Linked DNA regions of Homo sapiens: region 2 is linked to region 1. The links come from fine-mapping of genetic effects on gene expression. Tissue or cell type: whole blood. Region 1 holds a variant in brackets; the other region holds the start of a gene. All regions are shown on one strand. Distances are between the middles of the regions.

Region 1 (8,107 bases):
TGCCTCAAATTTATAAGTATGTAATAAATTATTCCTTGAAATGTAATTTTAACTCTTATTCTGACCATCAGCTCTCTCTAAGACCTTTCTTAGAGGGTTAGGACCTTTCCGTCTTTTGTTCACCATTAATACATGTCTAATCTGTATCTTGGGTACGCGGAAGCATTTTGCCTTCCCTTCCAAATGCAGGGCACCACCAATGGTATATTCATGCATTGCAATGCATGAATTTACCTCTGATAAAGCTTAACCCACACTTCCAAGCCGATGAAATTATGGTGAACATCCAGGTCTGCTACCTCCAGTAAGGAGACTCTTGTCTCTATCGGAAGACAGGAGGGGCATTATGGCTAACTCTTGGTCCAGGACAGCTACTGTTCTCCTTAGCCTCTTCCACTCTTTTCCTGCCCTTAGATCTGATGCTTTCCCATCTCTGCCATCTCATTCCAGTCCCACACTGGGCACCTCACAACTGACCCACAAATAATTTGTTTTCGAAATGTTTATGTCTTAGGCATTTGAATATAAACGGTGCATATAAATAAACATATAACAAACAATATACTCTGTGATGAGAATTAAAAGTGTTTACATTTGGCTGGGTGTGGTGGTTCATGCCTGTAATCCCAGCACTTTGGGAGGCTGAGGCAAGGTGAATCACTTGAGACCAGGAGTTCTAGACCAGCCTGGCCAACATGGTGAAACGCTACCTCTACTAAAAATACAAAAATTAGCTGGGTGTGGTGGTGCACACTTGTAATCCCAGTAGCTGGGGAGGGTGAGGCACGGGAATCACTTGAACTTGGGAGGTGGAGGTTGCAGTGGCCTGAGATCATGCCGCTGCACTCCAGCCTGGGTGAAAGAGCAAGACTAGGTCTCAAAAAAAAAAAAAAAAAAAAGTGTTTACAGTAGAGTTGGACAAGAATACCTTCTCTCACTGTTACCATTAACACGGGGTTGAGGAACTAACTAGTATATTAAAGAAAAGAATAATAAGTATAACCAATAGAAAAGAAGAGGCAAAGACTGATTTTTCACAGTGTTGTCTATCCAGCAATATGAGACACTCAACTGAAAAACTGTTAGAACCAAATAAATGTATTAACTAAGAAAGTTTTTCTTTACACAAACAATATATATAATGCAAACCATAATGCAAAAGAATCCATGCAGACTAGAAACAGAAAATGCAAAATACCTAACAATAAACTCAGCAAGAAATGTTCCAGATTCATATGGCATAAAATATAAAATGTATTAAAAGAAATGAAGTAGAACTGAATCAATAGAAAGGTACCATGTTGCAGGCCAGGTGCGGTGGCTCATGCCTGTAATCCCAGCACTTTGGGAGGCCGAGGCGGGCGAATCACGAGGTCAGGAGTTTGAGACCAGCCTGTCCAACATGGTGAAACCCCATCTCTACTAAAAATGCAAAAATTAGCCAGGCGTGGTGGCGGGCGCCTGTAATCCCAGCTACTCGGGAGGCTGAGGCAGAAGAATTGCTTGAACCCAGGAGGCGGAGGTTGCAGTGAGCCAAGATCATGCCACTGCACTCCAGCCTGGGGCGACAAAGTGAGATTCCATCTCAAAAAAAAAAAAAAAAGTAGAAGATAAAGAAAAGAAAGGTACCATGTTGCTAAAAGAAAAGTTATTAATTCTTCCCAGTTTTCTATAAATTTAATATAATTTTAATAAAAATATCAGTAGGATTTTATTTACTTGAAATTCACAGACTGATTTCATGGAAAAAAGACACTGTTCCAAAATAGACCTTCCCAAAATTGTGAAGAACATCAAGGTAGATCTCCTGCTGTGCCAAAACATTAGATAAAAACAGCACAGCTAGAGACAAACAGGTCGACAGACAACCGTCTAATATCAGAGAAGTTAAAGTTGGAATTTATATCACAGCAGTGGGGAAAGAATGTGGTATTCAACAAATAGAACTGAAATAACTGTATATCCATTTAGAAATATAATTTCCTACCTCATTCCATGTACCAAACTAAATTCTTGATTGATTAAAATATCTTTAGAGAAAAATAGTATAAAATCCTAGAAGAAAACAGAGGCTGGCTGGGTGCGGTGGCTCATGCCTCTAATTCCAGAACTCTGGGAGGACCAGGTGGGAGGATAGCTTGAGCCCAAGAGTTCAAGACCAGCCTGAGAAACATAGGGAGACCCTGTCTGTACAAAAGGAATAAAAAAATTAGTGGGGATGGTGGCACATGCCTGTAGTCCCAGCTACTTGGGAGGCTGATCCGGGAGGATCATTTGAGCCCGGGAGGTCAAGACTTCAGTGAGCCATGTTCGTGCCACTGCACTCCAGCTGAAGTGACAATATGAGATCCTGAAAAAAAAAAAAAGAAGGAAAGAAAGAGAGAGAGTGAAGGAAGGAAGAAAGGAAGAAAGGAAGAAAGGGAGGAAGGGAGGGAAGGAAGGAAGGAAGAAAGGGAGAAAAAAAAGAAAATATAGGTTAATGTTTTTATAATTTTGAGCTGGAGAAAGGTTTCCTAAGCAAGAATAAAAACTCAAAATTATAACGGAGAAAAATGGCCAGATTTGACCTGATAAAGTTATTTTTAATACCTTATGGCCAAAGATAACAAACAAGAAGTGAAAGACTGACTACAGTGAGAGAGTACATTTGCAACATGTATAAACAAGTATGAATATCCATAAAATATAAAGACTTCAAGAAATCAATAAGAAAAAGATAAACATACAGAAAAATGGCAAAGCTTTTAAAGGGAAAATTTACAGAAAAAGAAGTACCGGTAACCACCGCATAACTAAAAGTTGCTCCGTCTCATTACTGATCAGGGAAATGAAAATTAAGCATGAGATTGATAAAATAAACAATATAGATAATATCCAAATTTTGGTGGAAGTGGGTAAGAAAAAGAGACACTCACGCCTGGGAGCTTGGAATAGAAACTCATACGGCCAAACTGGGGGACAATTTAGCAAAATCTATGTACATGTAACAGGGAGTAAAAATCCTTTCAAATGGCAACTCCATGCTTGACGAATCTATCTCACAAAAATATAAGCTCACATGCACAGTATTTTTTGTAATAGCTAAATATTGAAATAACTTCTAATCATCTGTAGTAGAATAGTTAAATAAATCGTTACACCTGTACCGTAGAATTCTCTGCAGCCATAAAATGAATGTCATATATTAATTCATGTCTTGATGTAGAAAGACTCCTAGATGCAATGTTAAGAAAAAGAAGGCGAGGGGCGGTGGCTCACTCCTCTAATCCCAACAGTTTGGAAGGCCAAGGAAGGCGGATCGCTTGAGCTCAGGAATTCAAGACCAGCCTGGGCAACGTCATGGGATAGAACAGA[A/G]TAGAATACTACCAAACTATTAACTATGGTACCTTTGGAGAAAAGAACAAAATAAGAAAAAGGGGTGGTGGAGGAAGATGTGCATTTTATTATTTATATATATATATATTTTAAATGTGACTAATATGCATTCGTTTGTAACTTAAAAATGTAAACTTTGAACATCCAGAAGAAAATATCTTGTAAGAAAAGAATACAAGCATATGTAAAGAAATAATTGTGCACTAAGGTGTAAATAGTTCTGCCATCTATTCTTTATTCACTAACTAGTAAAGAAATATAGAAAGCGAAACAAAAAACTAATGGAACACATTTGTAATTGAAGTGTAACCAAATATGTAGATTACAGGCTGCAGTCTTCACAGTGCCTGTTATCCGTGGAGGAGAGGTCTCTGTTTCCATGGCAACACTGCCTGCAGTAAAGAGAACTTGTGAAAGAAATCCTTTTTCTCAGGAGGAAGTGCATGAAGTGTGTGCTGATTTACTGAGCATAAGTTTATCTCTCATTTTTCGTCCTGAGGGGGACTTTTTTTTTTTTTTAATGCTCAATCGCAAAATCCATCACGGACTTAGAATGGCAAAAGTCAAAATGAAATTTCTGGCTAAGCGGTCACCTTGTCTCGACTGCATCAATAATGACATCTCAAGGACAGTCCATCCTGACTCTGGGAGTCCCCAGACAGGCATTAGAACAGCAGTATAATCTTTCACTCCGTTTCTGGGTCAGTGGCACCGATTTTCATGGCTGCACTCTTTTTAAAAAATTAATTTTATTTTTTGATTGACAAATAATAATTGTACATATGCATAACGTACATAGTGATGTTTTGATACATATAATGTATGGTGATCAGATCAAGGTAATTAGCACATCCATCATCTCAAACATTTATCATTTCTTTGTGTTGGGAACATTCAATATCTTTCATATTGGGAAAGATTTATGTATAGATCTTACTAAATTGTCCCCCAACTTGGCCATATCAGTTTCCATTCCAACCTTTCAGACTTGCCTTTGAGAAAACCTATACATGGCAGATGTTTATATAAATTACCTAAAAGTCAATATTTTCTTTACTAAAATATAATCCTTAGTTGTGCTATGAAGGACAACTCTGGAAAATTGTTAACTGTCATCTCAGTTGAAGTTTTATTTTTTTCCCTGTCTTTCAGACATCTCGAGATCTGGCGTGTTTTATACAGTTTGAAAATGTCAACATTTACTATGGGACTCAGCATAAAATGAAATATAAAGCGCCCACTGACTATTGCTTTGTTTTAAAGGTATGTTATAAGAAGTCATTCATTTAGATTTATAAGCAATTTGAGTTAATTTTTTTTCAAGGAAGAAAATGTTAAATTATAGTTAGCCATATGTGTAACAATAAGAAATTGTTTAACCAAAATAGGAATGAGGGAAACATTTCTATCAATTTGGGACATTTTCCCCAAAGCCTCCTATCTGAACCTAAAACTTTAAGGTAACTCTGTCTGGGGATTTCTTCACTTCTGAAAATGAAAGTTCCACATTTTAAACAAATTAATTTATAATGTTATCGATAAGACTAAAAAAAGTTTTCAGTTCTTATTGGGCTCATTCCACCATAAGAAGATTTTAGAAATTAGAAACTTGCAAGATTTCCTAGACAACTTATAGAAAATAGCCAAAAAAAAGTTGTTTTAATTACTGGGTCATGAAACTTCAGGTGTATATTGTCAAAAGGCAATAGGTATTATCAAATGTTAGATATGGTTTACATTTTTTTGAGACCGAGTCTCACTCTGTCACCCAGGGTGGAGTGCAGTGGCTCAATCATAGCCCACTGCAGCCTCAGCCCCCCAGGCTCAAGCAATCCTCCTGCCTTAGCCTCTCAAGTATCTGGGACTAGAGGTGTGCACCACCACACCAGCTAATTTTTGTATTTTTAGTTAAGATAGGGCTTTACCATATTACCCAGGCTGGTCTCAAACTCCTGGGCTCAGGCAATCCACCTACCTTGGCATCCCAAAGTGCTGGGGTTGCAGGCATCAGCCACCACTCCTGGCCGATTTACATTTTTTAAAATTAGAATCTCAGATCAGTCTGATCAGGAGATGGGTTATTACAACCACACATGTGATGCGTTACGGGTCTTTCTGTATGCCTGCAGAACTCTGGATTAAGGACTATGGTAAGTTTTTGTCTGCGTTTCTTTTTAGTCAAATGCAATAACCAGGTGAATTCAATCATATTTAGTAATTTTGACTCCCTGAACAATTACAATCACTTATTATAATCATCAAATAATAATTGGTTGAAATTCTTGGCTTTATCAAGGACTCAGGATATTCAGTGACTTTCATTCAGATGTCCTAGCCTTTTTTTTTTAATTCCTAAGCATCCACTTTTAATTATTTACAGATAATATTAATAATAAAAACCACTATACTAGCTCAGTCAGCCTGATACTCCCCCAGTGGTTCTCAACCAGGCATTTTGCCTCCAAGGGTCATTTGGCGAACCCTAAAAACATTTTTGATTGTCATAGCTTGGGGCATGGAGCAGGGACTACTGACATCTAGTAGGCCAGGTATGCTGCTAAATACCTTGCAGTGCACAAGAAAACCCCCACACCAAAGACTTCTCTGGCCCCCAATGTCAACAGTGCTGCTGTCAAGAAACCTGCCCTAGACAGAAGAGCCCCAGAATAATGACTGTGAAAGCACTGAAGGCCGGGAGAAGGCTGGATCCGTTCACTCACTCATTCATTCAGTCATTTAATGTTTGTTGAATGACGGCCGGGCACGGTGGCTCACACCTGTAGTCCCAACACTGTGGGAGGCTGAGGCAGGCAGGTCACTTGAGGCCAAGGACTCTAGACCGTACTGGCCAACATGGTGAAACCCTGTCTCTGCTAAAAATACAAACAGTAGCTGGGCGTGGTGGTGCACGCCTTTAGTCCCGCTACTTGGGGGGCTTGAGGCAGGAGAATCACTTGAACCCGGGAGGCGGAGGTTGCAGTGAGCCGAGATCGCACCACTGCACTCCAGCCTGGGCGACAGAGAGAGACTCTGTCTCAAAAAAAAAAAAAGAAAAGAAAAAGAAAAAAAATGTGTTGAATGACAACTATTGTTGAGTGACAAGGATTATTATTATCATTATTATTTTCACTGCCGCATTCCCATCACCTGGAATAGTGGTGGGAATGCGGCAATTAAAAAAATACAACAATCCCTGTCCTCATGGAGTTTACATTCAACATGAGGAAAATGGCAAAGAACAAAAAAATATGCAATGTGATGTCAAGTAGTAACAAGGAGCAATATGAGGTAGGGCTGGGGCCAGGGCTCCTTTGGATGGGGTGTTCACAGAGAGGCTCTCTAGGAAGTGACATTTGACAAAAGATGTGAATGAGGTGAGGGAGCAAGAATTATCTGCAGTACGAGCCCTCCAGGAATAAGAACAGGAATTGGAAAGCCCTGAGGTGAGGGAGGTCTGTTTGTTCCGAAGGAAGAGAGATGGGGAGCATGCCCTGCCTGATTCTGCTCCTCGCCCCTCCTTGTCTGTTCCTGATATAGGAAAAATAAGAATAATGGCAAGCACTTATATGGCATTTTCTTTGTAGATGTGGTATGTGTGCAGAGAGACTCCCCAGCCAGGAAGTGGCCAAGTCAGAATGAGAACTCAGGCAGTGCGGCTCAGAGGCCGTTCTCTCAGACAGTTTCTCAGGCCCCCAGAGATCTGGACACAAAGCATCGCCCACTACCCTGTCCCTCCCACAATGCCACCTGCCCTTGAGTCACATCTTCCCATGTCTGGAATCCTAAGACCCTGATAAATTACCAAAATGGAGCATTCCAACACACTTTATTGCCAAAGACTTGTCCACACTTCTTAAATCAGGAGAAGGTTTTGGAGAAATTTTCTGAAACACTGGTCAGTAAACTGGCTGAATCAGTCACTGGAGACTCTTTACAAATGCAGGTTCCCAGGCCCTAGGCCCACTAAATCAAAATAATGATGGAACCTAGGGTTAGGGTTAGGGTTTAAGGATGGAGCCTAGGAATCTTCATTTTTCCTAAGCATGGTCAAGTTTTCTACTGAGTGTTAGAACTCACTCTAACCATCAGTACTCATGGCTTAGCTGGTGATTAAATGGCCTTCAGAGTGGGCAGACAGGATGAAAGTCTAGCAGAAGGAAGCAGGAGCCAAACCCCAGGGCTGGGGTCCAGAAGCCAGAGCAGGGGTGTCTGTCAAGAAAAAGACAAGGTCTCTGACAAGAGGTTCCCAGCATGGGGATTTAGACACAGTGAACAGGGGAGGGACTCAGTTTCTCAAACTGACACATAAGTTTGGGACTAGGACCTACAATTGGCAGGACTTGAACGGTCTGACCTAGAACATGAGGTTATCCTGAGATTACACCAAGAATAGAAATCCTAAGTCCCAGAGTATTGAACCAGAATTTCTAAAACTTCCTGCTATCCAAGGTCTAGGTCTACAAGAGAGAGTTGAGGATCTCCCCAAAGGAGAGAGGGGGCTCAGAGGTGGAGAAACCAGCAGGACTGATGGATCTGGGAGCAAGAGTCATGAGCAACCCTTGCAGAATGTGTATTTCCTTTTCTCTCAGGATGATGATCTGTTCTGTTCTAAAGCCAATTTCCTCATGTGCAATCACCCTGCTCATTTTGTTCTTAAGCATGCTTCTCAGTTCCCTCCCAAAATATTGAGAATTCTTATTAATTTGCTGAGTAAAAGGATAACTGTTGAGGT
Region 2 (8,107 bases), 100 kb before region 1:
TGCCTCCCCCGCTCTTCTCCCTCTGCCTATATCTAGTCCTCTGAATCTCTGGCAAACTACCTTCTAAATGTCTCTCAGTTTCACCCATTTCTTCGCATTTCCGCTGCTGCTGACCTAGTCAAAACAATTATACAGTTGACCCTTGAACAACATGGGTTTGAACTGCATGGGTGCATTTATACTTGGATTTTCCTGCTGCTTCTGCCGCCCCTGAGACAGCAAGATCAACCCCTCCTCTTCCTCCTCCTACTCAAGTTGAGTAACGTGAAGATGAGGATGAAGACCTTTATGATGATCCACTTCCACTTAATAAATAGTAAATATGAGGTCAGTCACAGTGGTTCATGCCTGTAATCCCAGCACTTTGGGAGGCTGGGGCAGGAAGATCGCTTGAGGCCAGGAATTTTAGACAAGCCTGGGAAACATAGCAAGACCCCATCTTACAAAAAATTATTTAAAATAAAATTAGCTGGACATGATGGTGCATGCCTATAGTCCCAGCTGCTCAGGAGGCTGAAGCAGCAGGATCCCTTGAGCCCTGGAGTTTGAGGTTACAAGGAGCTATGATCTCACCACTGCACTCTAGTCCAGGAACAGAGTGAGACTCTGAAAATAAATAAAAAATAAATACATAGAAAATATATTTTCTTTTATGATTTTGTTAATAACAGTTTCTCTAGCTTACTTTATTGTAAAAATACAGTATTTAATACATATAACATAATATGTGTTAATCGACTGTGTTATCAGTAAGTCTTCTGGGCAACAGTAGACAATTAGTAGTCAAGTTTTGTGGGAGTCAAAAGTTATACATGGATTTTCAACTGTGCAGCATTTTGGTACCCCTAAAACCTGGCATTGTTCTGTTACAGTAGGTAGCTAGTCAGGCATGAGCAGGGCAGGAGAGGGCTCCCCTCACCCCCTACCAGGAATGTCAGGCGACTATCAGGTGGTGGTCAGGGGACTGTTAACCGTGTCTCTAAAATAATAATTGATCACAGCCAGCACCAGGGAAAGGCAGTCTCCCAATAGATAGAAACACCTGAAACTGGTGATCAACAGCTTCCAGATAAGATCTCAGGAGTTGGGCGAGTGGGCTCAAGCATGTGCACTAAGAGGTAAAATGGTGGAGTTTAACTGGCAAATGACCTTCCAGGGACATTTGGTAAGGGAAGAATGCCTAAAGTGAACACGCGTACAACTTCAGTAAACACACTGCGCATGCTCACCTCCCAAGTGCTGGCACGCCACTGCTCATGTGGACAGCCCACTCCATGGGAAGAATCAGGAGGAGGAAGACAAGACCCCGAAGTATGTCAATGCGTAAAGCCCCAAGTCAAAAGTCAAACAGCGCACTTCTCTCAAGTCACCCGCTTGGCCCTCTTCCAAGTATAATTTACTTTCTTTTGTTACTGCCCTACAGTTTTCTAATAAACTTTCGCTCCTGCTCTAAAGCTTGCCTTAGTCTCTTCTTCTGCCTTATGCCCCTCAGTTGAATTCTTTCTTCTGAGGAGGCAAGAATTTAGGTCGCTACAGACCCATATGGTTTTGCCAAAGCTAACATATTTTGGTGCCGTGTCTCAGATATATTCTGCTGCTGGCAGTTCAAAGGCCAATTGTATTTTCTTTCCCAACTTAGCTCAGAAGTCTTCCTGCATCTATTCTTTTCTTCATCTGATCCGTTCCCCAAATTATGCCAGAGTGATTTTCCTAAAGCATAAATCCCATCATTTGCCAGCTTAAAATATTATTTAATATATTCTCATTGCTCTTAGGATGAGAAAATAATTCTTGACATAGTCCACATGACCCTACATGGTTTGCCCCTACTGACCTTACCTCTAACCAGACCTTCCATAACTCCAATCATACTGGTTTCCATTCAGTTTCTAATCCCTCTGCCACTCCCTTACTCCCATCCCATTTCCCAGCCCACCCATCAGCAAATGCTATTGGTTCTACTTTGCTAGGTGGTTGTTTGTTTGTTTGTTTAAATAGTCTTGCTCTGTTGCCCAGGCTGGAGTACAGTGGCATCATCATAGCTCACTGCAGATTTGAACTCCTGGGCTCAAGCAATCCTCCTGCCTCAGTCTCCCAAGCAACTGGAACCATAGGCATAAGCCACCATACCCAGCTAATTTTTTCCCCCATTTTTGTAGAGATAGGGTCTTGCTATGTTGTCCAGGCTAGTTTTGAACTCATGGCCTCAAGTGATCCTACCACCTTGGCCTCCTAAAGCACTGATATTACAGGCATGAGCAACTGTGCCAAGCTTTGGTTTTATTTTGAAAACTGTATCTTGATTCCAAACTCTTCTCACCATATCTACTGTTAGAATACTAATAAAGCTACTATCATTTTTCATCTGGACTCTGACCATAGTCTACTGAGGAATCTCTCTTCTCTTGCTTCAATCAATTGATTTTCTGAACAATCACCAACTGGCAGGATGGCTTATCGCTTAAGTCAAATCATGCACTCAGTTGCTAAATACATTCCAATAGTCCCCCATTGCAATTAGAATAAAACCTAAAGTCCTCAATGCTGGCTACAAGGTCCTGCTTGTTCTGGTTCCTGCTTACCTCTCTGTCCCCATCCACTATTGCTGCCCTACTCTTTCAGAACATTCCAGGCACACTGGCCTGCCTTCTTTTGAACTTTCTATGTTCCTATCTCAGCCCCTCTTCTTGTTCTTCCTTCTCTTGGAATCCTTTCCCAAGTTTCTGAATGGCTGCCCCTTCTCATTACTTTGTAAAGAGGTGATCCTTGACCACTTTCCCTGCCCCAAGAAAGTCACTCTCATTGTTTGATTTTATATTTTATGTAGCACTTACAACTCTGCTCAGAACCTTCCACTGGCTTTCCATCTCACTCACATCAAATTCTCTTCCACAGCTCCCAAATAGCACACAATCTGGGCACCATTTCCTTTTGATCCCATCTCATGTCTGTCCCTCCCATCTCACTCTGCTCAGCCGTACTAATTTCCTTGGTGTTTTTCCAATATCTTAAGTGCTCTCCTAACTCAGGGTCTTTGAATGTGCTGTTCCTTTTGCCTGGAATATTCCCATCTAAAAACCCAGTGTGGATTAATCTCTCATGCCATTTAGATCTAGCTCAAGTGTCACTTATCAGACAGAAATACCAGTTTCAGGTGTTTCTGTCTATTGGGAGACTGCCTTTCCCTGGTGCTATATTAAAAAAAATTAGGATAAATAAATAATAAATAAATAAATGAAAAATACATTTTCTCTTCCTTATGATTTTATTAATAACAGTTTCTTTTCTCTGGCTTACTTTATTATAAAAATACAGTATTTAATATATATAAAATAATATGAGTTAATCGACTATGTTATCAGTAAGGCTGATAACAACTGCTTGATCATCACCTGATGGTCACCTGACATTCCTGGTAGGGGGTGGGAGGAGCCCTCTCCTGCCCTGCTCATGCCTGACTAGCTACCTACTGTAACAGAACAATGCCAGATTTCAGGAGTACCAAACTGCTGCACAATTGAAAATCCATGTATGTCTTTTGACTCCCCCAAAACTTAACCACGAATAGCCTACTGTTGACCAGAAGCCTTACTGATAATATTAAACAGTCAATTAACACATATTATGTTATATGTATTTAGATAAATACTGTATTTTTACAATAAAGAAAGCTAGAGAAAAGAAACTGTTATTAAGAAAATCATGAGGAGAAAATATATTTTCTATTTATTTATCGTTTATTTACCCTAATTAATACAGCAACCCCATCCCCATGCCCATCACTCTCTATCCCTCACCTTTTAACTTCCTTCAAAACTAGTTACATTCCTTGACATGTTAAATATTAATTTGTTTATTGTCTGCTTTCTACCAACTAGAATGCACCATGCATGAGAGCAGAAATTGTTTCCTCTAACTATTTTCATTGTTCTTAGAAGTGTTGGTGCTTACGAATAGTTTCTCATTAAATAAATGACAGAACTATTTGAAATTGCCTAATTAACACATGCACCTAATTTCTGTCTTTATGTCTTCACCACCTTCCCTGACATATAAGCCTTTGAAGACACAGCTGTAGAGGAGAAGGGGAGGGTTATTCAACCGCATTTACAAATCATAACTGATTTTAACTTCTGTATTTTCAGACCTCCCCAGCGACTTTCTCTCAGGAAACTCCACTCCCAACTGACAGGTGCTATTTCCAGCCAGTCCTATGCTGTTGCAAATAGTGAGTCCATGAATGCCCTCTGCCGTGTGCATTACTTATTTTCATCAGCAGATCTTCGTAACACACTCCTGGAAGTGGGATGACGGGGTCAAAAGGCGAATCCATACATAAGTTAAATAGATATTGCTCAATTCTCTTCCACGGGGTTCAGACCATTTTGGATTTCTACGAGCAATGAAGACAGTGCTATTCCTCTACACCCTGGCCGGCCAACTGAGCGTGGTTAAACGTGGGGAGGGAGGAGGGTGAGGTTACCAACCTGATGGTTGAGAAAGGGCCTCCGCCCAGCGCGCCCTTCCTCCACCCCCACCCGAGAGACAGCTGAACTCCGGCCGGGACGCGCGTGTTGCCAGTCCAGCCCTGCACCGCGTCCCCTGAGGGCGGGCTGCAGGCGGCCGGGAAGCCTTGCACAACCGGCCCAAAAGAGGAAGCCCAGAAAGTGCTGAAGTAAACACTTTGGGAGACCGTTGCAACATAAAGCGGCCTCTCAGTCTTTGGTGGAACCATCACTAGGCCCCAATCCCTTAGTCCCTCTTGCGTCGAGGCTGCAAAATGGTTCCATTCGCCAGGAGACGCTCCTGAGAGAAGGGCGCGCGCGGCACAGGTAGGGGGAGGCGCAACGTTTCCCAGAATTAAAATAAAATAAAATAAAATAAAATAAAAATCCCTTCAAGGTGGTTGTGTAGTAGGGGTGGGATGGGGGAGAGAAAATCAGGCGCAGACTCGATGAGTTGGAGAAAGCAGCCCCTAACTCGGAGTCCTTTACGCATATGTTTGTCTGTCCCACTGTCTCTAACCAGGGGCCTTCCTTGCACCTCGGAGCAAAGCAGCTCGGATAGCGCCACACGTCTGCGCGCTGCGTGGGAAGGGCAGGGCTGACAGCACTTCCTCCCCGGGGCAGCGACCTGGAGCCCGGGTGCGGCAGTCTGCACCGCGCGTCGCTTTCCCGGCCGGAGTCTCGCCGCCTTCCCGCGCCCCGCAGCGCCCCGCAGAGCAGTCGAGGTAAGTGGCGCTCCCAGTCCCGGGAGCCCTGGGAGCGCCAGCACGGGCCCCTCGGGGCTGTCAGGAACCCGTTTGTCAAGCCCGTCGGGTCCGACGCCGGGGGCAGCTCCAGGATCTGGCCTCGTGAACGCGTGCCCCCAGGCGTGGCCCTCGAGCGCAGCGGGTCCCCAGGGTCCCCTCCGCTGATCTCCACTCTGGACCCGGCTCGCGAGGGTGGGGGTGTGAGGGTTTGGGGTTCGGGTTTGCTTTTTCCCGAGCTATTGCAACAGATTTGACAGATTTCCTGCCCAGGAAATTGCTGCAAGGTCAAACGGGGAACTGCTATGAACCCTTGCACGTCCAGCAGGTCAGCAGGTCAGCAGGTCAGCAGGTCCGGGAGCCCCAGTCTCCCGGAACCTGGAGGGATTCTTGAGGGGCCAAGATTAGATGTGGATTAAATGCCAGCCGTGTGAGAATTTGAGTGTGGCTCGCAGTCTGATGCATCTTAGAGTGTTTCCTTCCTCTAAAACTTTTGGACAACTCTTTCCTCTTTTTAAAAATAACTTTTTCCCCCGAATATTCTCATTTTCATTTTAAAATACCATAAAGATAGATTTGGACACCAGGCACAAGTTTCATAATTTGGCTTGAAATGAATATCCAGAGGGCCTTTTACAGAATGGAGGAAACTAACTAGGGTGTCCTAATGTCTCCAAGAACCTCTGCGCAGGTGTTCCACCAAAGACCTAGCCCGGTGTACCTCTTACTTTCCTGCTAAGGTATTTCTTAGTTCATACCCCTGTGGAACGTGAAATGTGTTTCCTAGACACTCAGGGCATAGCGGTTCAAAAGAACTTTTAATGTGATCCTTGACGAGACGGAGTACTAGAGGAAAGTAACAAAAGAAAAGGGCCCGTGAGTTTATTATGCCCCCAGATGTTTTTTTCTGGTGGCATAACGTGGTTTAAACAAAGGTGCCGGTACTAGCTACTATTCATTTTAAAATCTGGGTCTCCAGAGAGAAATTTCAGAAAGGAAAACTTTGTCCTTTTTCATAAACCTAGAGCAGCGATTTTCCCTCTGGCCTCACTGGAATAATGGGTGGCACATGGGCCAGGACGATGATGCTGGCTGGCGAAATTAGCAAGGATCTGCTGAGAAATACTTTATAAAGTCTTCTAGTGGTATTTCCTGTCTGCTCAACGTGTGTTGTGAAAGGTCTAAGAAATTTAACTTCATCCTTAAACTATTAATAATGTGTGTCCTTAAACTATTAATCCTTAAACTATTAATAATTACTAATATTTGGGTTTTTTCTCAGCACTTGGGAGACCTGGGTTCTGGCTCTTATATCTCCCCCATCTAGATAAGGATGATATTGATTAACTTGCATAACTTCTCCCTGGACTTCAGATAACGTCAGTAAAGTGAGATGATTGGGCTACATTATGTCTGTTCTTAAAATAGCAATTGAGGAGTTGCTATAATTCTTTGAATTGGTCCCAACTGGAATACTGGCAACATTATATCAACATTAGAATTGCTGATCACAAATTTTTTAAAAATGGAGAAAATAATCATAACCATAACAGATTACATTCTGAAATATCAATATCTTTGAGGTCTTTTGTTTCTGAGAAGTTCCTGTAAAAGCGCAGTCAATATCTGGCCTATATGTAAAAAGGCAAATTTCCATCTTATTTGAAAACTGAGATAAGAAACAGCCCAAACTTGAACAGGTCAATATTATATTTTGAAATCTTTAAATTGCTATTTCTCAAGAAATATAACTTTGTAATATGAATTACTTTATGGCATTACTTTAAATCTTAAACACAATACTAGGTTTTATAGTATTTATTACATTTTTTGTATTTTTATATCCTAAGAATGTTCACCAGTTATCCACTATTGATTTGCCTTTTTTCACTCATCAATCAAAGTTTTAAATAGTTCCATATTATTATTAGAATGAGCTACTTATAAAGTTCATTGCCATAAATGTCTGTTTGATATGTCACTTTGAATTTTCTTTAAGCCATCTTACTTCCAAAGAGCATTATTATTTTCATTTTCTTCTAATTCTCTTCAATTTTATTTTAATTATTTTTATGCCTAAAACATTTTAGTGAGTCCACAAATCTTATAATAAATTGTCTGCGTTCCATAGCCTATTGGACCACAATCTTTACAATTTTATAGGACCCCATGAGTTTATATTATGGAGACTACGGTGATCTTAGGAATGCTTGCCTCAAAACAGAACAATTTTTATTAACACAACAGGTATCTTCTCAGTATGAAAATGAATGTGTGTGTTTTATGTCACTGCTGTCATCTAAGAGGCAAGTCACTTAAAGCTTAAGCATTTATTATAAATTCATGTACATAATAAATGCCAGATTTTAAAGTGTAAGATTTCTACACTGGTTGCATGGGGATTTTAAAATACATATTACACTTTTAATTATCGTGAGAAACATGACTTTTAGAGAAAACTGCTAGATATCTGGAACAGTAATCATTAGATTTCTCTTGAAAAGAGAGAACTAGCCGCATGAAGGAATGCCATTACACCTATACCCAGTTAAAGAGACTAGATTGTACCTGCAGCTTGGAAGGGCAGACCCTGAGGACAGCTTTTGGGGGACTAGAGGATGTGACCTGCCACCACTGCATCATCATTTCCTAGCCAATTTGTGATCCCAAAATGAGGACTCCAAAGAGGCTGGCTAAATGTGCAGAATATATTAATCTCACTGAGTGGTACCATGGAAATATCACAAGCCCCTGAGATCCCGTTGGCTCCACTGGTCCCAAACCTCAGGCATGAGCAAGCAGAGAGGTGACACCACTCCAAGGCATCACACGTTCTCATTATTCCACATATTCTGGAGC

What was found. PIP is the estimated chance that this variant, and not a neighbour inherited with it, causes the effect.
Region 2: it holds the start of APBB1IP, and the variant in region 1 is fine-mapped to the expression of APBB1IP in whole blood (TOPMed, PIP 0.90).

The regions. Positions count from the first base shown.
Region 1 is chr10:26,537,055-26,545,161 of GRCh38, forward strand. APBB1IP (amyloid beta precursor protein binding family B member 1 interacting protein) reads left to right here. Exons shown (of 15, transcript NM_019043.4): 11 at 4,528-4,638. Among named protein-coding and RNA genes, the nearest start is that of LINC03028, 38 kb to the right of the region's middle. RefSeq lists an enhancer at 3,697-3,766. The variant A/G (reference allele first, on the strand shown) is at 3,355.
Region 2 is chr10:26,433,624-26,441,730 of GRCh38, forward strand. APBB1IP (amyloid beta precursor protein binding family B member 1 interacting protein) reads left to right here and starts at 4,718. Exons shown (of 15, transcript NM_019043.4): 1 at 4,718-4,832; 2 at 5,029-5,230. RefSeq lists enhancers at 4,035-4,564, 4,282-4,411, 4,972-5,051.